4 linked regions of the Homo sapiens genome follow. The protein of the gene in region 4 purifies or fractionates together with the protein of the main gene of each other region. This does not show direct contact. Each region holds a gene or a part of one and is shown on either strand. Other genes may lie near its edges. The genes, in order: LMF1, B3GNT2, GINM1 and ITGB8.

The links.
Region 1: the proteins of ITGB8 (region 4) and LMF1 purify together in Homo sapiens (affinity purification with mass spectrometry; 3 studies listed by BioGRID and IntAct, with this or other methods). This does not show direct contact.
Region 2: the proteins of ITGB8 (region 4) and B3GNT2 purify together in Homo sapiens (affinity purification with mass spectrometry; 2 studies listed by BioGRID and IntAct, with this or other methods). This does not show direct contact.
Region 3: the proteins of ITGB8 (region 4) and GINM1 purify together in Homo sapiens (affinity purification with mass spectrometry; 3 studies listed by BioGRID and IntAct, with this or other methods). This does not show direct contact.

The regions. Positions count from the first base shown.
Region 1 is NC_000016.10:952,824-961,680, forward strand, and holds part of LMF1 (lipase maturation factor 1), read right to left. Parts: intron 1,844-8,857; coding exon 1,534-1,843; intron 1-1,533. UniProt on the Homo sapiens protein: Involved in the maturation of specific proteins in the endoplasmic reticulum. Required for maturation and transport of active lipoprotein lipase (LPL) through the secretory pathway. Each LMF1 molecule chaperones 50 or more molecules of LPL.
Region 2 is NC_000002.12:62,218,258-62,225,231, forward strand, and holds the end of B3GNT2 (N-acetyllactosaminide beta-1,3-N-acetylglucosaminyltransferase 2), read left to right. Parts: intron 1-3,954; 5' UTR 3,955-3,963; coding exon 3,964-5,157; 3' UTR 5,158-6,474; downstream 6,475-6,974. UniProt on the Homo sapiens protein: Beta-1,3-N-acetylglucosaminyltransferase involved in the synthesis of poly-N-acetyllactosamine. Catalyzes the initiation and elongation of poly-N-acetyllactosamine chains. Shows a marked preference for Gal(beta1-4)Glc(NAc)-based acceptors.
Region 3 is NC_000006.12:149,560,157-149,569,896, forward strand, and holds the start of GINM1 (glycoprotein integral membrane protein 1 precursor), read left to right. Parts: upstream 1-6,218; 5' UTR 6,219-6,258; coding exon 6,259-6,378; intron 6,379-9,740.
Region 4 is NC_000007.14:20,409,564-20,416,775, forward strand, and holds the end of ITGB8 (integrin beta-8 precursor), read left to right. Parts: intron 1-51; coding exon 52-215; intron 216-311; coding exon 312-434; 3' UTR 435-6,191; downstream 6,192-7,212. UniProt on the Homo sapiens protein: Integrin alpha-V:beta-8 (ITGAV:ITGB8) is a receptor for fibronectin. It recognizes the sequence R-G-D in its ligands.

The sequences.
Region 1 (8,857 bases), on a different chromosome or scaffold from region 4:
AAACCAGCCTCCTACACGTCCACACAGACACCCACCCCAAACCAGCCTCCTACACATCCACACAGACACCCACCCCAAACCAGCCTCCTACACGTCCACACAGACACCCACCCCAAACCAGCCTCCTGCACGTCCACACAGACACCCCAAACCAGCCTCCTACATATCCACACAGACACCCCAAACCAGCCTCCTACATATCCACACAGACACCCCAAACCAGCCTCCTACACGTCCACACAGACACCCACTCCAAACCAGCCTCCTACACGTCCACACAGACACCCCAAACCAGCCTCCTACATATCCACACAGACACCCACCCCAAACCAGCCTCCTGCACGTCCACACAGACACCCCAAACCAGCCTCCTACATGTCCACACAGACACCCACCCCAAACCAGCCTCCTACATGTCCACACAGACACCCACCCCAAACCAGCCTCCTACACGTCCACACAGACACCCCAAACCAGCCTCCTACACGTCCACACAGACACCCACCCCAAACCAGCTTCCTACACGTTCACACAGACACGGACCCCAAACCAGCCTCCTACACGTCCACACAGACACCCACCCCAAACCAGCCTCCTACACGTTCACACAGACACGGACCCCACACCAGCCTCCTACACGTCCACACAGACACCCACCCCAAACCAGCCTCCTGCACGTCCACACAGACACCCCAAACCAGCCTCCTACATATCCACACAGACACCCCAAACCAGCCTCCTACATATCCACACAGACACCCCAAACCAGCCTCCTACACGTCCACACAGACACCCACTCCAAACCAGCCTCCTACACGTCCACACAGACACCCCAAACCAGCCTCCTACATGTCCACACAGACACCCACCCCAAACCAGCCTCCTACATGTCCACACAGACACCCACCCCAAACCAGCCTCCTACATGTCCACACAGACACCCACCCCAAACCAGCCTCCTACATGTCCACACAGACACCCACCCCAAACCAGCCTCCTACATGTCCACACAGACACCCACCCCAAACCAGCCTCCTACACGTCCACACAGACACCCCAAACCAGCCTCCTACACGTCCACACAGACACCCACCCCAAACCAGCTTCCTACACGTCCACACAGACACCCACCCCAAACCAGCCTCCTACATGTCCACACAGACACCCCAAACCAGCCTCCTACACGTCCACACAGACACCCACCCCAAACCAGCCTCCTACACGTCCACACAGACACAGACCCACTGCTTCTGCCTCCCTTTCCCCATCCCTCTGGCTCCAGTAAGCTGGCAACGCAGTCCTTTAAGTAAGGAAGAGCTACTGCAAAGAGGTGGGGTTTTAATCCTGAAGATGGGTGGCTGCTGTGGCTGGTGCACTGGCCGCTCTGCCATGGCCTAAGTAAAATGACAATACCCTCCTGAAGGAATTTAAGATAAACGCTCGTCCAGTCTTTCCAAGTGCCAGGACACCTGCAGTGCCTGTGCTGAGTGACAGCAAGCCCTAAGCTCCGACCGCCCCATTCCTGCTACTCACCAGACATGGCCCACATTAACCAGGGACATGTAGAGGCCCCACAGGGCAGCCATGAGAAGCATGTTGGCGCAGCCCGTGATCAGTACGAAAGACGAGATGCCCAGTCCGAGAAGAGCCAGCAAGTCCAGGTTGGAGTTCATGTCTGACCAGTCCATCAGCCAGAGGATGGTGGGCATGTAGCTGAAGACTTCCCAGCTCGTCCTGTCCTGGAAGTACTGCTGGAAGTTCTTCAGGAACACTCTGCAGGGAAGCAGCCCCCTGTCACCGATGAGCTGCTTGTTCTGATGGAAAGCCACCAGGAATGCCACGACTGGAAGAAAAAGAAGACAAAACAAGCATGACTAGGAACAAACCACATGTGGACACCATGGGCGCAGCTCAGAATGCGGGGCGAGGCAGGCGGGAAGGGGAGGCAGAGTCTGGCTGACGGTTTGGGGCCAAACCCTAGACTCAGGAGTCTGAGTACTTTCTCAAGATTTTGGGGGAAACACTGGAAAAGCCAACCTGCAGCAGACGCGGTGTGTGCATACACGCATACACATCTAAGTGAACTAGACACGTTACATAAAATGCGTGCCCGCAGCAGACGCGGTGTGTGCATCCACACACACACATATCTAAGTGAACCAGACACGTTACATAAAATGCGTGCCTGCAGCAGATGCGGTGTGTGCATACACACACACACATCTAAGTAAACTAGACACGTTACATAAAATGCGTGCCCGCAGCAGACGCGGTGTGTGCACACACACACACACATCTAAGTAAACTAGACAAGTTACATAAAATGCGTGCCTGCAGCAGACGCAGTGTGTGCATACACACACACACATCTAAGTAAACTAGACAAGTTACATAAAAGGCGTGCCTGCAGCAGACGTGGTGTGTGCATACACACACACACATCTAAGTAAACTAGACAAGTTACATAAAAGGCGTGCCTGCAGCAGACGCGGTGTGTGCATACACACACACACATCTAAGTGAACCCGACCCGTTACATAAAATGCGTGCCCGCAGCAGACGCGGTGTGTGCATACACGCACACACATGTAAGTGAACCAGACACGTTACATAAAATGCGTGCCTGCAGCAGACGCGGTGTGTGCATACACACACACACACATCTAAGTAAACTAGACACGTTACATAAAATGCGTGCCCGCAGCAGACGCAGTGTGTGCATACACGCACACACATCTAAGTGAACCAGACACGTTACATAAAATGGGTGCCTGCAGCAGACGCAGTGTGTGCATCCACGCATACGCATAGAAGCAAACTAGATGCTTGTATATAAATTCCGTGTCTGCAGCAGATGCAGTGTGTATACACGCACACACATAGAAGTAAAGTAGACATGTGTATATAAATTGCGTGCCTGGCTACACACAGACAGCCAGCTGACCAACCGGACTGCACTCAGCATTCACCATTATGAAACACACCCTGAGGACCCTGGCTCTGGTCAACGGCATCACTCCCAGCACACGCTGCAGGGCTTGACACTTACTGCCTATAGGTGAGCCACACTTGCCCTCTACGCAGACCACAGGTCTCCGAGTTCACGTCTCACGGCGCCCACCCCACGACGGCTCTCTCACATCCACAGGTCTCCGAGTTCACGTCTCACGGCGCCCACCCCACGACGGCTCTCTCACATCCACAGGTCTCTGAGTTCACGTCTCACGGCGCCCACCGCACGACGGCTCTCTCACATCCACAGGTCTCCGAGTTCATGTCTCACGGCGCCCACCCCACAATGGCACTGTCACATCCACAGGTCTCCGAGTTCATGTCTCACGGCGCCCACCCCACGACGGCTCTCTCACATCCACAGGTCTCCGAGTTCACGTCCCACGGCGCCCACCCCACGACGGCTCTCTCACATCCACAGGTCTCCGAGTTCATGTCCCACGGCGCCCACCCACAACAGCTCTCTCACATCCTCTGGACGTCAGTATTTGTAGAACACTGAATGCTTACCCAGAGATGCTGACAGGTGAGAGAAGCACATTCCCATGTGTAAACGTGAAGAATGAAAAAGCAGTTGAAAGTAAAAAAGATACACCATTCAAATGTGAATCAAAAGAAAGCTGGATCTAATTCATCATGGCTGAAAAAAATTAAAAATAAAAATAAAAAATACAAACAAAAGAAAGTGGAAGTGGCTCTATTAACATCATAAAAAGTAGATTTAAGGGCTGGGCAGGGTGGCTCACGCCTGTAATCCCAGCACTTTGGGAGGCCAAGGCAGGCGGATCACCTGAGATCAGGAGTTTGAGACCAGCCTGGGCAACATGGAAAAACCCTGTCTCTACTAAAAATACAAAAATTAGCTGGGCGTTGTGGCAGGCACCTGTAATCCAAGCTACTCAGGAGGCTGAGGCAGGAGAATGGCTTGAACCTGGGAGGTGGAGGGTGCAGTGAGCCAAGATTGCGCCACTGCACTCCAGCCTGGACGACAAGAGCAAAACTCCATCTCAAAAAAAAAAAAAAAAAGTAGATTTAAGGGTCGGGCACGGTGGCTCACGCCTGTAATTCCAGCACTTTGGGAGGCTGAGGCGGGTGGATCACCTGAGGTCAGGAGTTTGGGACCAGCCTGGCCAATATGGCAAAACCCTGTCTCTACTTAAAAAATACAAAAATTAGTCGGATGTGGTGGTGCACCCCGGTAGTCCCACCTACTTGGGAGGCTGAGGCAGGAGAATCACTTGAACCCGGGAGGCTGCAGTGAGCCGAGATGGCACCATTGCACTCCAGCCTGGGCAACAGAGACTCCATCTCAAAAGGAAAAAAATCAATTTACAAACAAGGAATGACACAGGGATGAAAGAAGATATTGCATAATGATAACAATATCACAAGAGCAACCCCACAAGTACATGCGGCTTCCTACTGCGTGTAGGAATCTGGCTTGGGGTCCATGTCTGTGTAACTGTGCATGCTGGTTTGGAGTGAGTGTCTGTGTAGACATGTAGGAAGCTAGTACATGTACTTTTCCCCATGCATTTATAAATCTAAAAACATATAAACGGAATCTGCACATGGAAAACTACAAAACACTGATTAAAAAAATGAAACAAGATCTAACTATATGAAGAGATAGACCATGTTCATGGATTGGAAAAATCAAAATCATTAAGGTGTCAATTTGATCCATAAATTCGGCACAATCTGAACCAAACACCCAGTCAGTGCTTCCGCCGAGGCTGACAAGCTGATTCTAGAATATACATGGGAGAGCAAAGGGATTAAAAAGCCAAAATCATCTGGAAAAGAACAGAGGTGGAGGACTCATGTTACCCAATTTCAAGACTTACTAAAAAGCTAATCAAGACCACATCAAGACAGCGCAGTATTGATTAAGGAAGAGCCGCAGAACTCAATGGAATGGAAGAGACGGCCCAGACACAGCCCCCCTGCCCCCGACCCGACACACAGAGTGAACAAATTCTGACAAAGGTTCAAAGGCAACTACACAGACAAAGAGCAGCCTTGGGCCGGGCGTGGTGGCTCACACCTGTCATCCCAGCACTTTGGGAGGCTGAGGCAGGAGGATCGCTTGAGCCCAGGAATTCCAGAGCAGCCTGGGCAACATAGTGAGACTCAGTCTCTACAAAATAAATAAAAAAACAAAGAAGAGTCTCTGTAACAATCATGTTGGAACAGATGGATGTCCACATGCAAAAAGATGGACCTGAACACACTTCACACCTTACACAAAAATTAACCAAAAAGGATCATAGACCTAAATGTAAAACATAAAAGCATAAGACTTCCAGATGGAAATATAGAAGAAAATCTATGTGACTTGGGTTTGGCAACAAGTTTTTAGATACAACACCAAAAGCATAATCTATGAAATTAGAAACTGTAAATTGAACTTTATCAAACTGAAAAACTTTTGATCTGCAAAAGCTACTTTTAACAGAATGAAAACACAAGCCGCAGATTGGAAGAAAATACTGGCAAATCACACATCTGATAAAGGATTTGTATCTAGAATATTTAAAGAACTTTTAAAATTCAATAATTAGAAAACAAACAACCCAATGTTAAAGGTGGGAAGAAAAAACCAGGCCACAAGGTCTGAACAGACATAGGAAGGTGTACGGATGGCAAATAACACGTGAAAAGATGCTCAACATCCTTCATCACTGCGGAAATGCCCATGAAAACCACAGCGTGCTGTCACCACACACACGTCACATGGCCGAAGTGCTTGAAAACGGACAGTGCCCAGGCCGGGCGCGGTGGCTCATGCCTGTAATCCCAGCGCTTTGGGAGGCCGAGGTGGGCAGATCACCTGAGGTCAGGAGTTCAAGACCAGCCTGGCCAATGTGGTGAAACCCCGTCTCTACTAAAAATACAAAAATTAGCTGGGCATAGTGGTGCACACCTGGAATCCCAGCTACTCGCAAGGCTGAGGCAGGAGAATTGCTTGAACCCAGGAGGCGGAGGTTGGAGTGAGCCGACACAGCGCCACTGCACTCCAGCCTCGGCGACAGAGTAAGACTGTCTCAAAAAAAAAACCAAAAAAACAAAACAAAAAAAACACGAACATGGACAGTGCCCAATGCTGCAGAAGGTTCGGGACAGCAGGAGTGCCCTCGCTGTGCCGGGGATGCTGTGGCCTACCACTGTGGATGGCAGACGGTGGCATCTGACCCAGATAATGAAGGGTTACCTTACAAATCAGCTACTGCACCTCTCAGGCCTTCAACCTGAAAGTGTGCTCGCACAGAAGCCTCATGCAGATGCTCATAGCAGCTCTGTTCATAGCCACTAAAAACTAGAAACAAGGAAGACATCCTTCACGGTGGAAGTGGATAAATAACCGGAGGTGCATTTGTGCAACAGAAAAATAATCAGAGATAAGAATGCAGCTGTTGGTTCAGGCAATAACATGGATGAATCTTAAGTGCATTTTGCTAAGCAAAAGAATCTAGACCCAACAGGCTATATACTGCGTGATTTCATTCGTATGTCACACTGGAAAAGGCAAAACCAGAGGGACGGGAGACAGACCCGGGCGTGCCAGGGGCTGGTGCAGGGGAAGTGGTCACTCCCATGCACGGGGGACTTGGGGCTGGAGCTGGGGTGATGGAGGCAAAGCCCACAGCACTGAGCATTACACGAGATGAACTTCAATGTGCACAAACTATTGGGGGAAGACCCGACCAGGAGGTTGGGGGATGCAGATAGAATACAGGCTCCACACGCACGGATGTGAAACAGAAACACACTGGCCAGAGGGCAGGAGCCGCCTAAGCAACTCCGGAAAATGTTCTGAGTGGAGACCGCAAGGCCAGAAGGAGCTGTACACAAACGCTGCACTCCAGGGCTTTCCCCCCCGGGCCTGGGTGGACAATTCTCGCACGTGCACCAGGGCTGAGCAGATGCTAGAGGAGTCAGGGGAGCCAGGTTCCCACTAGCAGAGAGGGAGGATTCAGATGGGCCAGCAGGGAAGACTGGAATACACCGTGTGCCAGGACGGGAGGATGGAATACACCATGTTCCAGGACGGAAGGCTGGAATACACCGTGTGCCAGGTGAGAGTCAGAGTCATCGGCATGGACCAGGTTGACCTTCGTATACTTACAGATGGATAGGTGGATACGACAGAGAAGCAATCAAATGTGTGAAATGAGATAGTGACACACAGAGCCTAGCTCTACCCAGGAAGAGGGCCAGCAGCTGTGACACCCCGGGAGCAACGGCCCTCCCAGTGCCCAGACTGAAGTTTCTATGCTCCCCTAAAAAGAACCAGGGCTCCTTGGAAACAACTCATTCTAGGGCTGGGGCAGAGAAACAGAAGCTGGGCCGGAAGCATCCCTGCGGGGAAGGAGGGGAAACCCACCAGTGGTCAAAGCTGGAGGAGCTGAGCAGCAAACTCACAGTGACAGCACTGGATCATAACCCAGACAAAGACTCACAGTGACAACACTGGATCACAACCCAGACACAGACTCACGGTGACAGCACGGGATCACGACCCAGACACAGACTCACGGTGACAGCACGGGATCACGACCCAGACACAGACTCACGGTGACAGCACGGGATCACGACCCAGACACAGACTCACGGTGACAGCACGGGATCACGACCCAGACACAGACTCACGGTGACAACACTGGATCACAACCCAGACACCATCTCATGGTGACAACACGGGATCACGACCCAGACACAGACTCACGGTGACAGCACGGGATCACGACCCAGACACAGACTCACGGTGACAACACGGGATCACGACCCAGACAGACTCACGGTGACAGCACGGGATCACGACCCAGACACAGACTCACGGTGACAGCACGGGATCACGACCCAGACACAGACTCACGGTGACAGCACGGGATCACGACCCAGACAGACTCACGGTGACAGCACGGGATCACGACCCAGACACAGACTCACGGTGACAGCACGGGATCACGACCCAGACACAGACTCACGGTGACAGCACGGGATCACGACCCAGACACAGACTCACGGTGACAACACGGGATCACGACCCAGACAGACTCACGGTGACAGCACGGGATCACGACCCAGACACAGACTCACGGTGACAGCACGGGATCACGACCCAGACACAGACTCACGGTGACAGCACGGGATCACGACCCAGACAGACTCACGGTGACAGCACGGGATCACGACCCAGACACAGACTCACGGTGACAGCACGGGATCACGACCCAGACACAGACTCACGGTGACAGCACGGGATCACGACCCAGACAGACTCACGGTGACAGCACGGGATCACGACCCAGACAGACTCACGGTGACAGCACGGGATCACGACCCAGACACAGACTCACGGTGACAGCACGGGATCACGACCCAGACACAGACTCACGGTGACAGCACGGGATCACGACCCAGACACAGACTCACGGTGACAGCACGGGATCACGACCCAGACAGACTCACGGTGACAGCACGGGATCACGACCCAGACACAGACTCACGGTGACAGCACGGGATCACGACCCAGACACAGACTCACGGTGACAGCACGGGATCACGACCCAGACACAGACTCACGGTGACAGCACGGGATCACGACCCAGACACAGACTCACGGTGACAGCACGGGATCACGACCCAGACACAGACTCACGGTGACAGCACGGGATCACGACCCAGACACAGACTCACGGTGACAGCACGGGATCACGACCCAGACAGACTCACGGTGACAGCACGGGATCACGACCCAGACACAGACTCACGGTGACAGCACGGGATCACGACCCAGACACAGACTCACGGTGACAGCACGGGATCACGACCCAGACAC
Region 2 (6,974 bases), on a different chromosome or scaffold from region 4:
AAGCCGAGTTCTCATGCAAGACACTGTGCCCAGGTCACAAGTGCACGATGACATTTAACCTTGATGGAAATGTGCAGTTGAGAATCTTGTTTTCTCCACCTTCCTCTTCAGATTGGCTTGAAAGAAATACCCTTTAGCAAGTAATGGGAAGAGTTGCCTCAAATTGAGCCTTTGGGAATCTGAAGTCTTTTACAAGAAAGGCTGATCTGTTTCCTGAGGTGGGGCTGGGAGCTTGTAGGTGCCCCCATTTCTCTTTCTTTGGAGCCTCTTTAACTATCAATGTACCATGATCCCGTGCCATAATCAGCCTGTGGGACTTCACTGTTGACCTGGTCCAGGTAACTAGAATGTGGTTGAGCCTCATAGAAAAAAGAGATCCAGAGAGTCCTGGATTGGGAGCCAGAAGGTGGTCTTGTCTAAGCCTTGTCACGTAACTCTTCCATAATATTCAGGCAAATCATCAGTCCCCTCTGAGCTTCCATTTTCTCCTGGTAAAGTGGCATCCCGTGCAATGAGAAATGAGCAGGAAAATGCCCTGCGGGCTGGAGGCCTTGAGCACTTAAATGAAAGTTGAGGGTGGTGTTCCCGGGAAGGCCATTCATTAGTCCCTGTGTCTTGAGCCAAGGTGATGTGAGAACTGTACCTTGACGTGGCCTTGATTGAGGAAATAAAAGGCTGAATTGTAGCAGATGAAGTTGGAAATCTTGCCAGGGGTCAGCAAGCTTATTCCTCAAAGCATCCTCAAAAGAAGGATTGGTGTTTTCCGTGATAGAGGCTTCAAGTGGTTATGGCTGGATTCCAGTTATTCATGGCCTCTCCCATAATCTAGATGTATAAACTTGTTAAATTATCTGGAGTCATTTTTACATGTTATTCACTCTGTATCTTTCCTAGGAGAATTAGCTCTGGAAGTTCACAGCCTCCTATGTAAAGTACTGTGCTTCCCTTTTTTCTTCCCTAAGCTGTCCTCTTTTACTCCAGAAATTTTGGTAAAGGTCTATTAATGTTTAAATCCCTTTACTGAGTTAAATTTTTGCCGGGTATTAAGCTGTTCATAGTATGTGCTGTTTTTTCCTGAGTAGTTTTGCTCTGTCACCCAGGCTGGAGTGCAGTGGCACGATCTCAGCTCACTGCAACCTCAGCCTCCCAAGTAGCTTGGACTACAGGAGTGCACCACCATGCCTTTTTTGTATTTTTAGTAGAGGCAGGGTTTTGCTGTGTTGGCCAGGCTGGTCTCAAACTCCTGGCCTCAAGTGATCTGCCCACCTCGGCCTACCAAAGCAAAGTGCTGGGTTTACAGGCGTGAGTCACTCTGCCTGGCCCCTTTGCAAATCTTTTTCTTCATTGTAGTTTTTCACCATCACACATTTCCTGTTGCCCTTCCTTCCAGACTAGGAAGGGCCTGAGACCTAGAGACAGCAGTACTGGGTCAAGGGCTCACTTTAGCATTAGGAGAATTGTCCCAAGTTAGAGAGAACCTTTTCTTTTTGAGAAGTATTTGAGAAATAACTGGAGTTATCACGGAAGTCTCCAAAGGTATGAGGTTAGGTTTTTCAAGAGTAGTTTTGTGGGCAGGGGACCAGGGAGTGGGTGCTGCTGATTGGCTGTGGATGCAATCAAAGCCATGTGCTGAGTCTGCAGGGGTTGGGGGGAGTCATGAGTCTCTAGTCTGGGTGGGGTAAGTCTGAGAAACATTCAGAAGACCAATCTTAGTTTCTATAATAGTGGTGTTAACTACAGGAGCACTTGGGGAAGTCAAAGATCTTGTGGCCTCTGGCCACATGACTTCTGAGCAATACGGGATTATAAAAACTGTGCTTACATTTTAGCAGAATTCAGGCCCCTCTCAATCCTAATCTTGTGACCTTTCATTAGCCTCAGCCCCCTGAACAAGGAAGGGATCAGTTTTATGGAGGGACTGTTACCATCTTTGCTTCGAAGTTAAACTGTAAACTAAATTTCTCCCGTGGTTAGCTTGGCCTATGCCCAGGAATGAGTGGAGACAGCTAGCCTGTGAGGGTAGACGCAAGATGGAGTCAGCCATGCTAGATTTCTTACTGTCCATAATCTTTGCAAAGGTGGTTTCAGCAGTAGTAAATACAAGCAACCAGATAAAGGTCTACTAGGCAGATCTTTACAGACACACAATAGCTTGTGAATTCCTGTTGATCTCATCTGGGCTCTCTAATATGTAATAGTTTTACAGCATTCTCAGCATGACAAATATTTTTCTACTTTACCGTTTGTTAGAATCCAGTGAACTTAAAAATCCTCTCCTTTCAAAAAGCAAATACTAGATTAAAATAGTTGCAAAGCTTTCTTTTAGGGATTGGAGAAGTGTAGCTACCTTTTGGCATGGTACAGACTTGGAATCTGTTTGCCTTGGCTGGTATTCCAGTCTGCCCTTCTTTAAATGTGTACCTCCTCAGGTATAAAATGGGAATGAGTAATAGTACCTAAGGATAAATTCCCAGTTGAATTAACCTGATAAGAAAATCTTCAGCTCTTTATAGAACATTGCCATCCCACTTTTTTGGGCTATCTTTTAATGTCACCTTGGTTTAAATGTTCATTCTTGTATAGGTCATCCATGTCAATAGTGTTAGAACCTTGGATATCCCCAGCAAACCATCTCATTACTCATTCTTTATTCTTCCATTGCCCACAGCCTGAAATCTTTTGATATTTCACTAAAATATCATTTGTATTTCCCTTTTTGCTACAAACAATAGAGATCTTAAATATACACTTCAGGTTTGACATATGCATACATCCGTGGAGCCTTCATCAGGATCAAGACCTACATGGTACATTTCTGTACCCCAGGAAGTTCCTTCCTATCCTTCTCTAAGCCCACCACCTCCATCACTTTCAGATTTCTAGAACCTAAATTCATTTTGCCTGTTCTTGAAGTTAATATAAATGAAAATTTGGGTCTGGCCTTCATTCACAATGTAATGTTGTAATGTTTCATCCACAATAGTTTCCCTTTCTATTGCCGAGGGGATATACCATTGTATGCAGATGCCACAGTTTGATCATCTGTTCTGTTGATATTGGGCTGTTGCCAGTTCTTGGCTATTGGGATAAAGCTGTCCTGAGTCTGCTTTCATTTTCTCTGTCTGAGATGCTCTGTGGTTCCTGTCTCCTGCTTCCTAGCCCTGCAACCTTGGGCAAGTGTCTTAATCTCTCTGCTTTGGTTTCCTTATCTGTAAAATGGTAGGTTGGAAAATAACTCAGGGTTGGGACTAACATTAAAAAAAAGAGAGAGAGATAGGGTCAGACATGCCTATAATCCCAGCACTTTGGGAGGCTGAGGTGGGAGGATCACCTTAGGTTGGGAGTTTGAGCCCAGCCTGAGCAACGTAACCAGTCCCTGTTTCTACATTTTAAAATCTCAAAGTTTTTCAAATGAAATAGAAGAGAACTTGAGAGTGAATGACATGGAACTGCACACAATGCGTCACACATGTAAATAGAGTTTTGTGTATGTATGTGTATACTAAACACAGTATAAAAATGTATTTGTTATAATTTAGGCAAATCGGTTTGCCAAGCACTGTATGTGCCATTGTAAGCAAGGAAGTTGAACTCTCCTGAGGTTATTTAGTAATAGGTATTTCTAGCTTCAGCATGTCTCAAACAGTCACTTACATAGTGCTTGCTGTGAGCCACGCGCTATTTTAAAAGCTTTCCATATAACATCATATACTCACAACCATCCTTTGAAGTGGGCTTGATTCCCATTTTATATATGGAGAAGTTGAGACAGGGACTATCCCACTTGCCCATGATCACAAAGCTAGAAAGGAAGGGCCAAGATTTGAACCTAGGCAGTGCAAGTGTAGAGTCTTTGCTGTAAACCACTATTCCTGGGGAGACAGGTAAAATAAATTGTATGTGCAAATGCAAATTGATAAGTAATTGATACAATACTCCACCCCTTTATTCCAGATATGAGAAATGAGTGTTGGACGTCGAAGAATAAAGTTGTTGGGTATCCTGATGATGGCAAATGTCTTCATTTATTTTATTATGGAAGTCTCCAAAAGCAGTAGCCAAGAAAAAAATGGAAAAGGGGAAGTAATAATACCCAAAGAGAAGTTCTGGAAGATATCTACCCCTCCCGAGGCATACTGGAACCGAGAGCAAGAGAAGCTGAACCGGCAGTACAACCCCATCCTGAGCATGCTGACCAACCAGACGGGGGAGGCGGGCAGGCTCTCCAATATAAGCCATCTGAACTACTGCGAACCTGACCTGAGGGTCACGTCGGTGGTTACGGGTTTTAACAACTTGCCGGACAGATTTAAAGACTTTCTGCTGTATTTGAGATGCCGCAATTATTCACTGCTTATAGATCAGCCGGATAAGTGTGCAAAGAAACCTTTCTTGTTGCTGGCGATTAAGTCCCTCACTCCACATTTTGCCAGAAGGCAAGCAATCCGGGAATCCTGGGGCCAAGAAAGCAACGCAGGGAACCAAACGGTGGTGCGAGTCTTCCTGCTGGGCCAGACACCCCCAGAGGACAACCACCCCGACCTTTCAGATATGCTGAAATTTGAGAGTGAGAAGCACCAAGACATTCTTATGTGGAACTACAGAGACACTTTCTTCAACTTGTCTCTGAAGGAAGTGCTGTTTCTCAGGTGGGTAAGTACTTCCTGCCCAGACACTGAGTTTGTTTTCAAGGGCGATGACGATGTTTTTGTGAACACCCATCACATCCTGAATTACTTGAATAGTTTATCCAAGACCAAAGCCAAAGATCTCTTCATAGGTGATGTGATCCACAATGCTGGACCTCATCGGGATAAGAAGCTGAAGTACTACATCCCAGAAGTTGTTTACTCTGGCCTCTACCCACCCTATGCAGGGGGAGGGGGGTTCCTCTACTCCGGCCACCTGGCCCTGAGGCTGTACCATATCACTGACCAGGTCCATCTCTACCCCATTGATGACGTTTATACTGGAATGTGCCTTCAGAAACTCGGCCTCGTTCCAGAGAAACACAAAGGCTTCAGGACATTTGATATCGAGGAGAAAAACAAAAATAACATCTGCTCCTATGTAGATCTGATGTTAGTACATAGTAGAAAACCTCAAGAGATGATTGATATTTGGTCTCAGTTGCAGAGTGCTCATTTAAAATGCTAAAATAGATACAAACTCAATTTTGCATAGAAAGGTGTATTTTGAATAGTTCCCATGTTGTGTTCTCACATTAGAGTAATTTCTATATTAAACCATGAAAATTGCCTTTATGAGTGATACCCATTTGAGGGCCTCTAAACCCTTCAATTTGGTACTCACGTGAAGAGGGAAAGCGGAAGATGGTAATTTTTTTTTATGGATGATATGGCAGGATGATTGGTTCTGATCTTACCGGCTAGTGGTCATTTTTAAAAAACTTGTACCCTCTTATCTGAAATCCTGTTTCTGGAATTTGGCCATTTTAAGTGATTTTGTTTGCCCTCTTCTATAATATTCCTACTTCCCATAATAATGACTGATTTATTTGTAATTCAGGTATTTATAAACCTATTGGCTACAAAGACTTTGTTAAACATTATCCAGTGGTTTTCGTGAAATGGAATTATGTTTATTTTTATGGGATTTGGGTAAATTTTAAATTGTCTAGAAAACTGAAATTTCAGTTGTCAGTTGTGGAATTCAGTTTTTCAATTGTGGAAATTTCCTGCCACCCCAACAGTATTTTTGTGTGTTAATTAATTTTGCAAAATGAGAATCATGGTGTGACACTCATCTAATTTATCTTGTTGTGATGTTATGGTCATAATAAGGAGAAAGAGGGTTTAATTTTTCTTGTATTTGGTTTCCTGGTGGTATCATAGTGTAATTTTAGTATTTGAAAATCAGTGTGATTCCTTAATGGCCAACTGAAGATTGAATTGCCGCTAACAACCATATCGTGTTAGTGAATTTTCAATATGGACCAGGAAGGCATATGTATTTTGAACTTGAGTGAAAAGGTTGAAGTTACAGACTTTTGCATAGATGGTTTGTCAATTTAAAATTCCAGAATTTATTATTGCCATATTTTCACATGCTGCTTATACAAGATTATTATTGAGTAGTAACTGCTTCCCTGTCTATGTAGAAGTGCCTGTGTTTTTATTTATTGTTCAGATCAAAGACCAAAACATTTTCTTAAATATATTTTATGTAATATTTTATTTGTATACAGTGTTGTTGATGAAATATTTAACTAGAGCATGATATTTTAAATGTTAAGGTGTAACATATGTTAAATAAAACTGTTATTTTTGAATTTTAAAATTTGTTTTTTGGGGGTATGAACTACTAGAGTTTAAAATTCTGCCAAACTATTACTTATATGTACTATTGTGTAACATACTTTCTTGAAATATTTTTGTTTATAGAATTGAAGGTTCTTATCAGATGGGATACTGGGGACTATAAACAATGGAAATAAAGCCACTGTATTTTTAATTTTTTGTGTAATGTGTAATCTATAATCCTTTTGTTTCCCATATTTGAGAACATTTTTCCCTGAAAGAGGCCAGTTTCCTCCCCAGAAACCATTACAGTAGTGTTGAACTATCACTGTCTCTCAGTGCGTCATCCATCTTTGCATTTAAAATCCCCAAAGTGCTTTCCCATTTAAAGTCTTTAAAGAAAAGTGAGAATATTTATTTATGCTTCCATTTTCAGTGAGTATAAATAATTTAATTAGGGAGTGGTGTGGCATTGTAAAGATTGTGTTATCCTAAGCCATTTCTATTTTGGAGTTTGTAGCCACAAAGATGAAATATAGAATCAGCCTTGACTACTCAATTTCCTTTCATAGACCCATGTTGAGAAGACACTACTAACGTCCAGTGGGAAACAAGTAGACAATTGATGAAGCTCAAAAAACAGAAGGGTTAGTGTTGTAAGAGCAAACAGTCTAATCCTGTTTGGAATGTGGAAGCCATTTCTGAGCAAGTATG
Region 3 (9,740 bases), on a different chromosome or scaffold from region 4:
ATAGAATTACCATTCAATCCAGCAATCCCACTGCTGGCTATCTACCTGAGGAAAAAGAAATCAATATATCAAAGGAATACCTGCACTCACATGTTTATTTCACCACTATTCACAATAGAAATATAGAGGATCAACCTCAGTGTCCATCAACAGATGAACAGATAAAAAAAAGATATATATACACAATTGAATACTATTTGGTTATTAAAAAGAATGAAATAATGTCATTTATAGCAACATGGATGGAACTGGAGGTCATTATCTTAAGTAAAATATGCCAGGCACAGAAAGAAAAAATATTGCATGTTCTCATTTACATGTGGGAGCTAAACAATTGGACCACATGGAGGTAGACAATGGAAAGGTAGATGACAAAAACTGGGTAAGGTGAGTGAGGGGGAAAGGGAAGGATGAAGTCAAGTGGGTTAAAGGGTATAAACATACAGTTAGATAGAAGAAATAAATTCAATGTTTGATAGAAGAGTTGGGTGATGTTAGTCAAACAAAAATGTACTATACTCAGGTGATACGTACCCTACATACCCTGAATTGATCACTATACACTACATACATATAACAAAGTTTCACATATACCCCATAAATCTGTACAAACATAAATAAATAAAAACACAAATAGATTGGTTGGGTTGTATATGAGAGGTGCACTCCCAGAGGTGCCCACCAGGGCATGAGCTCTGGATTGGCTGTGTTGTATATGAGATGTAAACTCCCAGAGGTGCCCAGGGAAGTAGTTTGCGATTTCTAGGAATTAGCTAACCCTCGGAGCAGCAGTGTCTCCAGGGCCAGCAAGGCCCCAGGTGCCGTAACATCAAGAATACAGAAAATAGGCAAATACAGTTAATACATATGGCTATGAAGTTGCCTGTCATTTTAGCACCAACTGAGGTAAACAATGATAAAGTGAGGCTTTTATATTCTAGTGAATTAAATAAAGTGAATCCTGACTTAAAAGAAGAAAATCCACTCCCAAGAGGGAAATCCACTGAAGGCAGAGGAAAGACACCCTACACTCTGCTTCTGCTTCCAAGTGGAGGCTTCTTTCATTTCTAAAGGTGATTTAAAAAGTCAAATAAGGCTGGGCACGGTGGCTCACACCTGTAATCCCAGCACTTTGGGAGGCTGAGGCAGGTGGATCATGACATGGTCAGGAGTTCAAGACCAGCCTGGCCAACATGGTGAAACCCCGTCTCTACTAAAAATACAAAAATTAGCCAGGTGTGGTGGCAGGCACCTGTAATCCCAGCTAGTCGGGAGGCTGAGGCAGGAGAATTGCTTGAACCCGGGAGTTGGAGGTTGCAGTGCGCTGAGATCGTGCCACTGCACTCCAGCCTGGGTGACAGAGCAAGACTCCATCTCAGAAAAAAAAAAAAAAGTCAAATAAGACAAATGAAAATGGCATCTTACCACAAATATAACCTACTTATCTGGGTTACTGAATATGAAATGATCTCTAAACAAACTCTTCTTGCAGTATCTGTTACAGATGTTCTATTTTTTAAAACCTGAAACCTGATAAGATTTCTTATTCCTTAGGATACTTATTTTAATCTTTTTTTTTTTTTTTTCAAGGCGGAGTCTCGCTGTGTCGCCCAGGCTGGAGTACAGTGGCTAGATCTCGGCTCACTGCAAGCTCTGCCTCCCGAGTTCATGCCATTCTCCTGCCTCAGCCTCCCGAGTAGCTGGGACTACAGGCGCCTGCCACCACGCCCGGCTAATTTTTTGTATTTTTAGTAAAGACAGGGTTTCACCGTGTTAGCCAGCATGGTCTCGACCTCCTGACCTCGTGATCCGCCTGCCTCAGCCTCCCAAAGTTCTGGGATTACAGGGGTGAGCCACCGCGCCCGGCCCTTTAATCTTTTATCTTCAGGATTTTTATTAGGGTACCAAATATTAAATTATAGTATGATTTTTAGCATCCTTGAGTACAAACGTCTCTGCAGATTTTCAGGTTGTTGAAACTAGTTAGCTGAGGGAGCAGAGAGCAGGGTCTGCATCTTGGCCCTGGAGCCCCTCTAGCTCCTGTGATGGTGGAGAAGGCATAGCTCTCTTACACTTTACTGTTTCTCCATTTCTCCCAACACAGCTTATATATATATATATATATATATATATATATATATATATATATATATATATATATTTTTTTTTTTTTTTTTTAAGACGAAGTTTCACTCTTGTTGCCCAGGCTGGAGTGCAATGGCGCGATCTCGGCTCACCGCAACCTCTGCCTCCCGGGTTCAAGCAATTCTCCCGCCCCAGCCTCCTGAGTACCTGGGATTACAGGCATGCGCCACCACGCCCAGCTAATTTTTGTGTTGTTAATAGAGACGGGGTTTCTTGAACTCCCGGCTGGCCTCGAACTCCCGACCTCAGGTGATCCGCCTGCCTCCACCTCCCAAAGTGCAACCCAGCTCATATTTTTAGAAAGCTAATGAGTAGAATAATTTATAATCATCTCTATAAATGTATATAAATTAACTAAATGCCTTTTGTTTCATTATACTGTGTTGGCTTAGAATGCCAGAGTTTAAAACCACAGCTTCATCATTTACTGTTCTGTAACTCAGAGAAAAACACTTAATTTCTATAAATTTCTGTTTTGTATATAAAAATGGGATAATAAATTGTAATCATGTCATTAGGCTGTTATAAGGTTTAAATAATATACATAAAGCACTTAACACAATTAGCATAATAAATGCTGGCTACTACAATGATAATATTTCTATGAGTTGTTCTTCATATGAGAGGCATCACCCATCATTATGAGCTAATTAAATTCATTCATAAATATATGGACAAGAAAGTTACAGCAAAAGCAGTTTTAAAATATTTTAGGCCAGGCACAGTGGCTCATGACTGTAATCCCAGCACTTTGGGAGGCCGAGGCAGGTGGATCACCTGAGTTCAGGAGTTTGAGACCAGCCTGGCCAACGTGGTGAAACTCCGTCTCTATTAAAAATACAAAAATTAGCTGGGCGTGGTGGTGGGCACCTGTTATCCCAGCTACTTGGGAGGTTGAGGCAGGAGAATCGCTTGAACCTGGGAGGAGGAGGTTGCGTGAGCTGAGATTGTGCCATTGCACCCTAGCCTTGGTGACAAGAATGAAACTCTTGTCTCAAAAAAAAAAAAAAAAAAAAAAAGTGGCTCATGCCTGTAATCCCAACATTTTGGAAGGCCGAGGCAGGAGGATTGCTTCAGCTCAGGAATTCAAGACCAACCTGGGCAAGCTAGCAAGCCCTCGTCTTCACTTAAAAAAAAAAATTAGCAGGGCATGGGGGCATGTGCCTACAGTCCCAGCTACTCAGGAGTCTGAGGTAGGAAGATGGCTTCAGCTCAGGAGGTCAAGGCTGCAGTGAGCCATGATCTATCTTGCCATGGCACTCCAGCCTGGGTGTCAAAGCAAGACCCTGTCTCAAAAAAATAAAATATAATATCTTTGTTTCTTGCTCTCCCTCTTGTCATCTTCTAGGGGTCTTTCAAAAAGTTCAAAAATATGTAGATGACTAACTCTGGAAAATACTGGAGTAGACTGTGTTGTAATAGAAGTGCAGTGACTCACTCACTCCCAGAAACTGGAAACAGATACAAATCAGGTCCCAGATTTCCTTTTGGCATCAAGCCTGCTTTAAATTGCAGAAAAAGATGGACTCAAATTTTGATTGTGGGAATGATGAAAATGACAATGAAATCGGCTACTGAAAAAGGAAATATATCAAGGTTTGGAATCAAAAGGTATTATCTGGTGAAAGAATAAAGACATTTTAATATATACTTTGTTTTCTGTAGTATTAGAAATATTTTAGAATATCTTCTCCTATATGAAAGATTACCTTCAAAGAAGAGAAAGCATCTAATGTGCACAGAACCGCAGTGGGTTGCTGTCAGGCAACTTGAACTCTTTTTATGATAGAGGATATCAAGTTGACATGAGCTGACTCAAAGGAACATCAAAGTACTCACCGTATTAACATTGACAGATTTATTTGTCGTGTAAGCAACTGCCAAGTTAATTCTGTCTTTTGTTTCTCAGATTAATGTGAAGGCTCAGTAAACCAAGCTGAGTTTTCCAATGGACAAGTGGAACTCAGCCACAAAGCTTGTTTAAAGTTTTGTTGTAACTCATTAGAGTTGTGGTATGGTGCTTTTTCCCCAAATGATGGGGTTTTTTAAATGAAATTCCGTAGCGCTCATGGGTGCATGTAGCAAAACAATGGCCTAAAGAGAACCATTTCATACAAAACAGTAAAATTTTTGATTATTAAATAATACTGTCAACCACTTAGACATTATTTGTCCAACAAACCCCCACTGAGGGCTTACTCTAGCAAGCTGTTTGCTTTAAGGTTTGGCCACCCTCTTCCTGGAGCTCACATCTATCTGACGAGACAGATAAACAATAAAGAATAATGGACAGTTAGACCATGGGAAAGGCTTTGTAAGAAAACAGAGAGCCTCAACTTTACCTATTATCTTTTCATATAGACGTACTTTGTAACCTTATATTACTAATTCAAATTATACAGATCCACATGTCATGTTTTCTGACTTCCAGATTCTTTTTTTTTTTTTTGGAGACGGAGTCTCGCTCCACCGCGCAGGCTGGAGTGCAATGGCGCGATCTTGGCTCACTGCAACCTTCGCCTCCTGGGTTCAAGCGATTCTCCTGCCTCAGCCTCCCTAGTAGCTGGAATTACAGGTGCGTGCCAGTATGCCTGGATAATTTTTGTATTTTTAGTAGAGATGGGGTTTCACCATGTTGGCCAGGCTATTCTCGAACTCCTGACCTCAAGTGATCCACCCGCCTCGGCCTCCTAAAGTGTTGGGATTACAGGCGTGAGCCACTGCACCCGGCTTCTAGATTCCTTTTTTTTTTTTTTTTTTTAATAGACTCAGGCGATCCTCCTGCCTGCGTTTGCTGCATAGCTGGGAGTACAGGCACAAATGACCACGCCCATCTCCAAATTCATTTTTAATTCCAGCAGTAGGAAAAAAAGGAAAAGGCCAAGTTTGCAGATGGAACCCAGAAGTGTGTGGGGCTTCGCTGTGAAATCACTTGTAGCTTAACAATGGCGTGGGGAATCTCAGAGTAAGCCCGGAGTTAGTTGAAAGGAGTCTTTAGCCAAAACGTTTATAATTTATTCTGGGGCGGGGCCGGGGGAGGGGGCGGTGGCGGTCAGCAGGCCTGTGGGAGGAGGGTGTTCAAAGGAGTAAAGGGGGCTCAAAGAGAGAAATAGATTCTTGTTTCCTTTTTCATGTCAAAAGTTTTATTTCATGTCAAAAGTTTTATTTCAAAGGAAGACTAAATATTACTCTTATTCTGCCTGAATGGCCAAGTTTCCAAGTTTTTCTCAATCAACATGCAATCCTGTTAATCTAAAATGCTTGAATTTCTTGCTACTCTGCTTTACAGGGTTCCGTAACTTTTTTTTTTTTTTAAATCTGCAAGGTGGAAGAAAAGTCTAACACTTTCACTTTAGAGTTACGATACTGACCAAAAAGGCACTGACAGCCCAGGTGCGCTGGCTTCCTTCCAGCTGAGCGCTGTCCCCGCGCCGCCTCCAGGGGTCGGCAGAATGCTGAACAGTAAGCATGGCGCATCCTCAACCTTGGCCCCACAATGAATCACCCGAGAAAATTAAAAAACCACCAGGGCCCGAGCCGCAGCCCAGGCTGGAAAGTGGGGTGTTCAGGAAGACCCCAGTACTTTTTAAAGCTGCCCGGGAGAGTCCCACGTGCAGCCAAGGGTGGGGAATTACCCACTTAATAAAAACTTCCCCTGTAAATGCGATGTTTCATTTTTAATGTATAACAGTTTTCTGAAATATTACCGTTGTTTTCATCGTATAGGTACATGTACATGTGCACACACAGACACATGCATGTGTGTAAATACTAATTTTAAAAATAATGGTTACGAGGACATTTACATCGCTCCAGTTGGAGTCCTGTCCAATCCTGAGGGCGGGTCTAATGAGGGGCCGTACCTTCCAAGATTTCACTCCGCCCCTCGACGCCGCGCGGCGCTGCGCGTGCGCAAACGCCTTTCCCTGGCGAGCCGGATCTCGGAGCGTCCCCGCGCCTCTCCGCGGCCGCCCGGGGAGGGGAGGGCCCGTCCCGCCCCTCCCCGTCTCTCCCCGCCCCTCCCCGTCCCTCCCGCCGAAGCTCCGTCCCGCCCGCGGGCCGGCTCCGCCCTCACCTCCCGGCCGCGGCTGCCCTCTGCCCGGGTTGTCCAAGATGGAGGGCGCTCCACCGGGGTCGCTCGCCCTCCGGCTCCTGCTGTTCGTGGCGCTACCCGCCTCCGGCTGGCTGACGACGGGCGCCCCCGAGCCGCCGCCGCTGTCCGGAGCCCCACAGGTAGGGCAGGGCGGGCCTGGCTGGCCGCTTTACGACTCCGACTCTCCGGGAGGCCCGGGCTGTCCACAGTGACGCTTCCCACATCCCACCGGCGGGCAGGGGCGGGGGTCCGGGCCCCCGAAGGAGGTGTGGGGAGAAGCACCCCAGGAAATGGGGGCGGCGTGGGAGGCCGAGGTAAGAGGAAAGGGACCCACTGGGGCTGCGTCGCTGTGAGTGAGCCTCGAGCCACTCCACACCGACTCTCCGGCGGCCCAAGCCGGCGCGCGACCTGACGGGGCTTTGCCGTCGAAGCGCGCGGTTGCCGGTGATCAGGCCTTCGTAATGGCGCCTTCCCGGGGTAGAGCCAGCGCTTGGGCAAGGAATGTTTGTGTGCTCGGGAAGTGTGGAAGTTGCCCACTTCGCGCATTTCCAGGCCACTTGTGCCTGCTCGGCCTGCGATCGCGAGGGTCCGCCGTTCCGAGGCTGCGGGGCTCCGCCGGGCTCAGGTGGGCAGAGGGAGAGACCTGGCCCTCGCGCGACGTAATGTTTTTGTCGGATGTTGGAGGAGAAGTTCTCACGGCGGGGCGCGATCGGCGGTGTCCGCATCCCCTGGGGACTCAGCCCGGCCTCTGGGGGCGGGGCCCAGCAGTCCGGGTTGGAGAGTCCTGCAGGTGCTTCTGATGCCAGCTGAGGTGGGAGAATCGAGGCATCCTAACATTAAAACGTGGCTGATGCTCACCATTCCTGCCGTAGAGTCGTGCCTACCTAGGCCAGTATCAGCCTTTTTTCAGTAGAATGGTAGGGAAAAGTTTGAATATTTTAAAGAGCAAGTGTTCTGAGAATGACAAGAAACTATGTCGGTACACCTCTTCCTAGTCAAGACTTGAATATGAACACTCTAAATACAAAGGCGAAGGGCACGGTAAGTGTCACTTTGACCAACAAGGTGAAACCCCGTCTCTACTAAAAATAGAAAAATTAGCTGGGCGTGGTTGCAGGTGCCTGTAGTCCCAGCTACTCGGGAGGCGGAGACAGGAGAATTGCTTGAACCCGGGAGGCAGAGGTTGCAGTGAGCCGAGATCGTGCCACTGCATTCCAGCCTGGGTGAGGGAGCTCAAAACAAAACAAACAAACAAAAACAAAAAAACCAAGTGTTAACGTTTTAGGATAATGACATTACCCCACGTGGGTACAAAAATGATGAGCATGTCTCAGTTCTGCAGGGCATTCCAAGAAGCCACGACATTGCCTGCCATAAGAACCACCTATATCTGAAATTATATGTGGACCACAGTTGCATCTGGTTAAACAATAGGAATGTGATGGACAGGCACCAAGGGACCAAATAAAAGTGAAATAGTTCTAAAAAGTTCTGGAAATACGGACATTATTTTCCTATTTTTCAAGTTTTAAAGATTCATAATTGACACCTATGTGTCAATGAGATGTTTACGTCTATATAATCTGCGAAAAATACATTTTGACTGCAGGCTTAAAATACACTGCATTGTCGGCTGGCTCTTAGTGATGATTTTACTATTTCAGTTCTCCCTTCTTGGGCCTTCATTTCACTTTCAGAAAGTCCAGATCTAAACTCGGAAATTCACATATTACGCTGGGTGCAGTGGCTCACGCCTGTAATCCCAGCTACTGGGAATCCAAAGCCAGAGGATTGCCTGAGACCAAGAGTTGGGTGTTGGATGATAAGCCTGGTTAACATAGCAAGAGCCTGTCTCAACAACAAAAAGTTTCACAGATTAAATGAGTGCTGAACAACTAGAAAGAGAATCTCATTACCTGGACTGTGTCTGTGGGAAACTGAAGTCCCTTGATCTAAGTCTTCTCAACGTCTTATTGTGAAACATTTCCAATAGGAAAGAATTTCACAGTGGTCCCACATATTGTGTAAGTGCTGTCCAGTAGAACTTTCTGCCTTGATGGTTATGTCTTTTCTCACCTTGTGGGTAGCCACTAGACTGCTGTGGCCACTGAGCACTTGAAATGTGGCCAGTGCCAGTGAGGAACTGTTTTTAAATTTTTATTTAATTTTAATCAATGTAAATGTAAATAGTCACAAGTGATTAGTGTGTACCATATTGAACAGTGCAGAACCAGACTACCCTTAACATTACTAGCTTTATCACATCTGTCCATCCTCGTTTCCAGTCTGATATAAATTAAACTGGTTGAAGTCAGGAAAATTCTGCCTTCTTCCGATGACTCAGATTTATTGGACTATAAGCATTTTTCTGTTTTTATGTATGCAGTTGTCAGAAGTTGAGGTAATACAAGATTGCACATAAGATTGAAAAATAAAAGTCTTTTTTTTTTTGAGACGGAATATCTCGCTCTGTCTCACACAGGCTGGAGTGCAGTGGCATGATCTCGGCTCACTGCAGCCTCTGCCTCCCAGGTTCAAGTGATTCTCCTATCTCAGCCTCCTGAGTAGCTGGTACTACTGGCGCGTGCCACCACACCTGGCTAGTTTTTGTATTTTTATTTTTATTTTTTTATTTTTTGTTTTTTATTTTTGAGAGAGAGTCTCACTCTGTCTCCCAGGCTGGAGTGCACTGGCATGATCTCGGCTCACTGCAACTTCTGCCTCCTGGGTTCAGGTTCAAGTGATTCTCCTGCCTCAGCTTCCCAAGTAGCTGGGATTACAGGCTCCCGCCACTGCGCCCAGCTAATTTTTTTATATTTTTAGTAGAGATGGGGTTTCACCATGTTGGCTAGGTTGGTCTCGAACTCCTGACCTCAAGTGATCCACCCGCCTCAGCCTTCCAAAGTGCTGGGATTACAGGTGTGAGCCACTGCGCCCGGTCACTTTTTTTTTTTTTTTTTGACGTGAAGTCTCGCTCTGTCCCCCATCCTGCACAGTGCAGTGGTGCAATCTCGGCTCACTGCAGCCTCTGCCTCCCGGGTTCCAGCGATTCTCCTGCCTCAGCCTCCCAGATAGCTGGGATTACAGGCACGTGCCACCATGCCTGGCTAATTTTTGTATTTTTAGTAGAGACGGGGTTTCACCATGTTGGCTAGCTGGTCTCAAACTCCTGACCTCAGGTGATCCACCCGCCTCAGCCTCCCAAAGTGCTAGGATTACAGGCATGAGCCACCATGCCCGACCGAAAAATAAAAGTCTTTATAGTAAATTCTTCTAATACTAAAATAACTTGGTCACCAAAGAGAGGCATTCGGAGGACACTTACTTTCTTGTATGCATAACTGTATATTTCGCTCAGACGTATTTTAAACCAGCTGTCTATTACCTTTATTCTTAGGAAGACACTTATGTCCCCAGTGGGCATCCTATGAGTAAAGGAATTAGAAGAATTGAAGATTTTTAGGGAGAAACTTTTCAGTGTCCCCAAGCACTTTTTAAGTAT
Region 4 (7,212 bases):
TGATTTACTTATTCCAATTTTTAATCCATTTATTTGTTTGCTTCATTACAGAATGTTTCTCCAGCCCAAGCTACTTGAGAATATTTTTCATCATTTTCATAGTTACATTCTTGATTGGGTTGCTTAAAGTCCTGATCATTAGACAGGTGATACTACAATGGAATAGTAATAAAATTAAGTCCTCATCAGATTACAGAGTGTCAGCCTCAAAAAAGGTCAGTGAATTCTAAAAAAGAACTGCTAACAGTATGTTATTGCCTAGTTACAATATTTAGGCCCTTAGTTAATAATAATATTTCTTCTCTATTAAGGATAAGTTGATTCTGCAAAGTGTTTGCACAAGAGCAGTCACCTACCGACGTGAGAAGCCTGAAGAAATAAAAATGGATATCAGCAAATTAAATGCTCATGAAACTTTCAGGTGCAACTTCTAAAAAAAGATTTTTAAACACTTAATGGGAAACTGGAATTGTTAATAATTGCTCCTAAAGATTATAATTTTAAAAGTCACAGGAGGAGACAAATTGCTCACGGTCATGCCAGTTGCTGGTTGTACACTCGAACGAAGACTGACAAGTATCCTCATCATGATGTGACTCACATAGCTGCTGACTTTTTCAGAGAAAAATGTGTCTTACTACTGTTTGAGACTAGTGTCGTTGTAGCACTTTACTGTAATATATAACTTATTTAGATCAGCATAGAATGTAGATCCTCTGAAGAGCACTGATTACACTTTACAGGTACCTGTTATCCCTACGCTTCCCAGAGAGAACAATGCTGTGAGAGAGTTTAGCATTGTGTCACTACAAGGGTACAGTAATCCCTGCACTGGACATGTGAGGAAAAAAATAATCTGGCAAGTATATTCTAAGGTTGCCAAACACTTCAACAGTTGGTGGTTGAATAGACAAGAACAGCTAGATGAATAAATGATTCGTGTTTCACTCTTTCAAGAGGTGAACAGATACAACCTTAATCTTAAAAGATTATTGCTTTTTAAAGTGTGTAGTTTTATGCATGTGTGTTTATGGTTTGCTTATTTTTGCAAGATGGATACTAATTCCAGCATTCTCTCCTCTTTGCCTTTATGTTTTGTTTTCTTTTTTACAGGATAAGTTTATGTATGTCACAGATGACTGGATTAATTAAGTGCTAAGTTACTACTGCCATAAAAAACTAATAATACAATGTCACTTTATCAGAATACTAGTTTTAAAAGCTGAATGTTAATAGGGGACACTGTAAAGTATCATCAAAACCTGAATAGCTTCATTGTGCACAAGTGTGGAGTTTTGTATCCTCTTACCTGGTAAACTGAAGGGATTGTTTGGCCATTTCATTTATCTTATCATTAATTCACAAGATAGTTAGAAATTCTGCCTCAAGCAAAGTACCACATTTTGAATGTTTTCTTAGATTTTGATTGCAAGTAGATATCAGCATTTTTTAAATGAAAAGCTATATTATCTTCTCCCTTCAAGGCAGCCTAAGGATGTTCTTTCCCAGAATCACTCCAACCCTTCTTGCCAGAATTCATAAAAGTACAAAATTGGAGAATAGATGATATCTTAGAAATAAGCTTTTTTTTTTTTTTTTTTTTTTTTTGAGACGGAGTTTCACTCTTGTCACCCAGGCTGAAGTGCAATGGCGCAATTAGGGTTCACTGCAACCTCTGCCTCCCGGGTTCAAGCAGTTCTCCTGCCTCAGCCTCCTGAGTAGCTGGGATTACAGGCATCCACCACCGTGCCCAGCTAATTTTTGTATTTTTAGTAGAGACGGGGTTTTGCCATGTTGGACAGGTTGATCTCAAACTCCTGACCTCAGGTGATCTACCCTCCTCGGCCTCCCAGAGTGTTGGGATTACAGGCATGAGCCACCATGCCAGGCTGCTAATTCTCCTTTTTAGTGAGTTAGGGAACTGAGCCTCAGAAAACTTAAACGATTTCTCAGAAAACACTCAAGTGATAAAGTGGCCACATTGGAAAGGAGTTTTTATCTTCTCATTGTCAGGCCAGTGTTCATTGCACAATATCATGCTACCTCTTGAATCTTTAAAATATTCAATTGGCAAATGTTTTTCAATGTGATTTACTCATGTCTTAAGTGTATGAGGAAAGTTCAAAGCAAAATAGAAAGGAATAATTCAAACTGAATTGTCCATAATCAGCTTCCAGTCTTTCATGCTAATCAGCTTCTTAAGAGACTGAAGTATGGCATACCTACAGGGGAATTCCTTCGCACCATAGCCTGTATGAACAGTGTTCCCTGGAGTTCTCCAGTGCTCAGCTTGAGACCTTGATACACGGGCCATGAGCCCTGTCTTCCCCAATGGAAATTTATTTACACTTACCTTATCCCTATGGACTTAGTCTGATTTTATTGGCTAGGAGTCTAACAGTCCTGTGTGGATATACAGTTTTGCCCATGACAACAAAGGAATCTATCCGAAATATCTTTTTTTTTATAATAAACTTCCAAGATTTGCTGTCTTCCAGCACTTGAGTTAAAGTACTAGATACTGCATTTTGATGAAGACTAACCCCATCTCATATTCTACCCTAAAGAGAACTGAAAAACCTATAATAAGTTGTTCTGGAGCCAATAAACACAGCAGCTCTGTTAGATGTCCTCTACAGCCAAGCACTTTCAATGCTAACTTGAACTGCATTTCCTTCCTCAAATGAGAGATTGACATAATTCAGTACTGTGAGTCACTTGTATAAGAAACCTTTGATCACTAAAAATAATGTAAAAATTGGGTTTAGTAGCCTAATACACATAACGTTCTTCTTAAAAAGGAAAATGGATGGATGCCTGACAACCCTCCAAAAGAAAAAAGTGTAAGATAGCCATTAAGATGATGACAATTTTTGAAATGAACATTATGATATTTATGAACAATAAACAAATTTCCGTATGGAATGAATTATCCAAAAAGAGTATAACAAAATGAAATCCTTAAAAATCCAGAGTTTATATTTTTTTTATACCCTCACTTGTTTGCACTAACTTTATAGTGGACCAAGGCTGTTACCATAGGAAGGGACAAACTTCCTTGTAGGCAACTCAGTGTTAGACGATGATTGTGGTTATGCTTGCAAAGTCTTGTGCTTATCTTTTTTGTTTTTACTTAAAAAGCTAATTTTTAAAGATTGTAGGGCTTGTATTTTACTTGAATAATTGATATCTTCCTGTGTAATGATTTGTGAGATGAGAATTAATATTTGACTAGTTAGAATTAATTAAATGGTAAGGGAACACAGGGTACTCTTAGGTTAAATAATGTATGCAAATAGAGTCTATTTTCAACTAATATGGCCACAGGAGCCTTTTGAGATTCATTGATATTAAACACAATTAATGAAATTTTAAATTGTTAACAGAATTGAGAACTTGAACAACACTTTTAGTACTGCAGCATTTTTGTGCCCTAAAGTATGTAATGATTTATAAATGTGCCATACATACACTACAACATAACATTTGCTTTGTTATGCATTTTATTTCTCTGGGGACACCATTGCACTGCAGTGCACACGTATTTATAAACATTTGTTATATTTTTGGAAACTTGCTAATATTTATTAAGTCATAGACTTTTCTGGAGGACTTAAAAATTCACTAAAAATCTGATTATGTCTTAAATGTTCAGTTTATCTTTGGTTTATTAAAATAAAAAAAAAATCTAAGATTAAACACAGTAGATATCTCTGGAGGCAATTTTCCAAAACTCAACATTAAAATTTGTGGATGCATGAGATGCAATCCTTCAAAGAATGAATCTGAAATATATTTTTAATATTTACTTAATATCCACTGAAGATATCTTTATGCAAGACAAGAGTCAGCCATCAGACACTGAAATATATTATGATAGATTATGAAGAATTTTCTCTGTAGAATTATATTCTTCCTGGAACCTGGTAGAGTAGATTAGACTCAAAGGCTTTTTCTTCCTTTTCTTACTCCTGTTTTTTCCACTCACTCTTCCCAAGAGATTTCCTAAAGCTTCAAGCTTAATAAGCCTAATAGTGAAAAATAACTGAATTTAATGGTATAATGAAGTTCTTCATTTCCAGACATCTTTAATTGATCTTAAAGCTCATTTGAGTCTTTGCCCCTGAACAAAGACAGACCCATTAAAATCTAAGAATTCTAAATTTTCACAACTGTTTGAGCTTCTTTTCATTTTGAAGGATTTGGAATATATATGTTTTCATAAAAGTATCAAGTGAAATATAGTTACATGGGAGCTCAATCATGTGCAGATTGCATTCTGTTATGTTGACTCAATATTTAATTTACAACTATCCTTATTTATATTGACCTCAAGAACTCCATTTTATGCAATGCAGACCACTGAGATATAGCTAACATTCTTTCAAATAATTTTCCTTTTCTTTTATAATTCCTCTATAGCAAATTTTTATGTATAACTGATTATACATATCCATATTTATATTTCATTGATTCCAAGACATCACTTTTTCAATTTAACATCTCTGAAATTGTGACATTTCTTGCAACTGTTGGCACTTCAGATGCAGTGTTTAAAATTATGCTTGAATAAATATTACACTAATCCAACTTTACCTAAATGTTTATGCATCTAGGCAAATTTTGTTTTCTTATAAAGATTTGAGAGCCCATTTATGACAAAATATGAAGGCGAAATTTAAGGACAACTGAGTCACGCACAACTCAACATGGAGCCTAACTGATTATCAGCTCAGATCCCGCATATCTTGAGTTTACAAAAGCTCTTTCAGGTCCCCATTTATACTTTACGTGAGTGCGAATGATTTCAGCAAACCCTAACTTAACTAACAAGAATGGGTAGGTATGTCTACGTTTCATTAACAAATTTTTATTATTTTTATTCTATTATATGAGATCCTTTTATATTATCATCTCACTTTTAAACAAAATTAACTGGAAAAATATTACATGGAACTGTCATAGTTAGGTTTTGCAGCATCTTACATGTCTTGTATCAATGGCAGGAGAAAAATATGATAAAAACAATCAGTGCTGTGAAAAACAACTTTCTTCTAGAGTCCTCTTACTTTTTATTCTTCTTTATCATTTGTGGGTTTTTCCCCCTTGGCTCTGATCACTTTAACTTCAAGCTTATGTAACGACTGTTATAAAACTGCATATTTAAATTATTTGAATTATATGAAATAATTGTTCAGCTATCTGGGCAGCTGTTAATGTAAACCTGAGAGTAATAACACTACTCTTTTATCTACCTGGAATACTTTTCTGCATAAAATTTATCTTTGTAAGCTAACTCTATTAATCAGGTTTCTTCTAGCCTCTGCAACCTACTTCAGTTAGAATTGTCTAATACTGCTCTATTAATCAGGTTTCTAGCCTCTACAACCTACTTCAGTTAAAATTGTCTAATACAGCAATATTTAAAAAAAAAACACTGCAATTGTCAAGGATGGAAAATGTGTGATTTGTGTAAACAATTTTTACCAACTTTACATTTTCCTACAGATAAATGTGAAATTTTGATAAGAAGTCTACGCAATGACAAGTATGGTACATAAATTTTATTAAGAATATTGAGTATAAAGTACTTTAATTCTAAATTATAAGAAAATATACATTTGCACATATTAATATAGAAATTCATTTTGTGTATATTTAACATAGCTTTTAAACTATTTTACATTAGCTACTTCATTATGGTTTCTTGAACTTCTGAAAAAAATTAGAAATGTATTAAACTTATCAGTAACATAAAAACTTATTTTGTTTCACCTAACGAATACTGCGTTTGTAAAAATAAATTTAATATAGAATATATTTTTAAATTAAATATTTGAATATAAAATAGCTCTAAGAAAGAAGCAAATTATCACTGAACATATTTCTTATTATTTCTGGCTTTGAATTATACGTAACTTAAATTGTCTTAAATGATACAGAATATTGGAGAATATGATACTTTCACATAATATACTATGAACCTGTTCATATAACTCTGATTGACTACTAACTTCTGTTTTATGTATTTATTAAAGAGCTGACACTGTAGTTTGTGGTGAGATGTTTATTTTTCTAACAGAGCTTATAACAGTTAGGACAAGGCATTTAATTAATGCATCATTCTGTTTAGTAGTAGGTGTTAATCAATATGAAATTCTCTGTTTTAAAATAAAAATGTAAAAATCTAAGAATATGCAAAACGCTTCCTTATTTACTTTGTGTTACATTAATCTCAAAGCTTCCAGACAACAGTACTTTGTCCCCCAAGGAAATGTAATAGCATCTATACACTGTCATTAGCAGAGGACATTACATAATTCCAAAAAGATATTACTCCTAGAAAATTGTAGGGCCAATGATAAACAGGGGAGGCCATCCTAGTTGTTCTTTTCCTTTTTGATAGTTATTTGCAGTAGAAACAGAAGAAATATTCTAATGACAAAAACCTGAAAAAAATAGCTAAAAGTTAAAACAGGCATTTTCCATGTGCCAGAGACTTCTACCACCACCTTAGGTGTGACACATTCATAACCTTCAATTGCACATTCTCAAGAGTCAGGCTTAAATTAATTGAATTTTATTGAATACCCATGTATTGTGATTTTTCTTACCCTAGAGAAGAGAATAAAGCAGAATGTGGTAGATACTGAGATCAGCTCAGTCGTGGAGACCCTAACCCAGCGGCGCCAGAGGAATTAAAGACACTCACACAGAAATACAGAGTGTGGAGTGGGAAATCGGGTCTCACAGCCTTCAGAGCTGAGAGCCCCAAACAGAGATTTACCCACATATTTATTGACAGCAAGCCAGTCATAAGATTTACTAAAAGCATTCCTTACGGGAAATAAAGGGATGGGCAGAAATAAAGGGATGGGTCTGGCTAGTTATCTGTAGCATGAACATGTCCTTAAGGCACAGATCGCTCATGCTATTGTTTGCAGTTTAAGAACGCGTTTAAGCAGTTTTCCACCCTGGGTGGGCCAGGTGTTCCTTGCCCTCATTCTGGTAAACTGACAACCTTCCAGCATGGGCATCAAGGCCATCAAGAGCATGTCACAGTGCTGCAGAAATTTTGTTTATGGCCAGTTTTGGGGCCAGTTTATGGCCAGATTTTGGGGCCTGCTCCCAACAGATAGATATATTAAAAATGAAATAAGACATTTAGACAGATTAGCTGTTCTTAAGGAGCTTTTAATAGTTTGAAGGAAA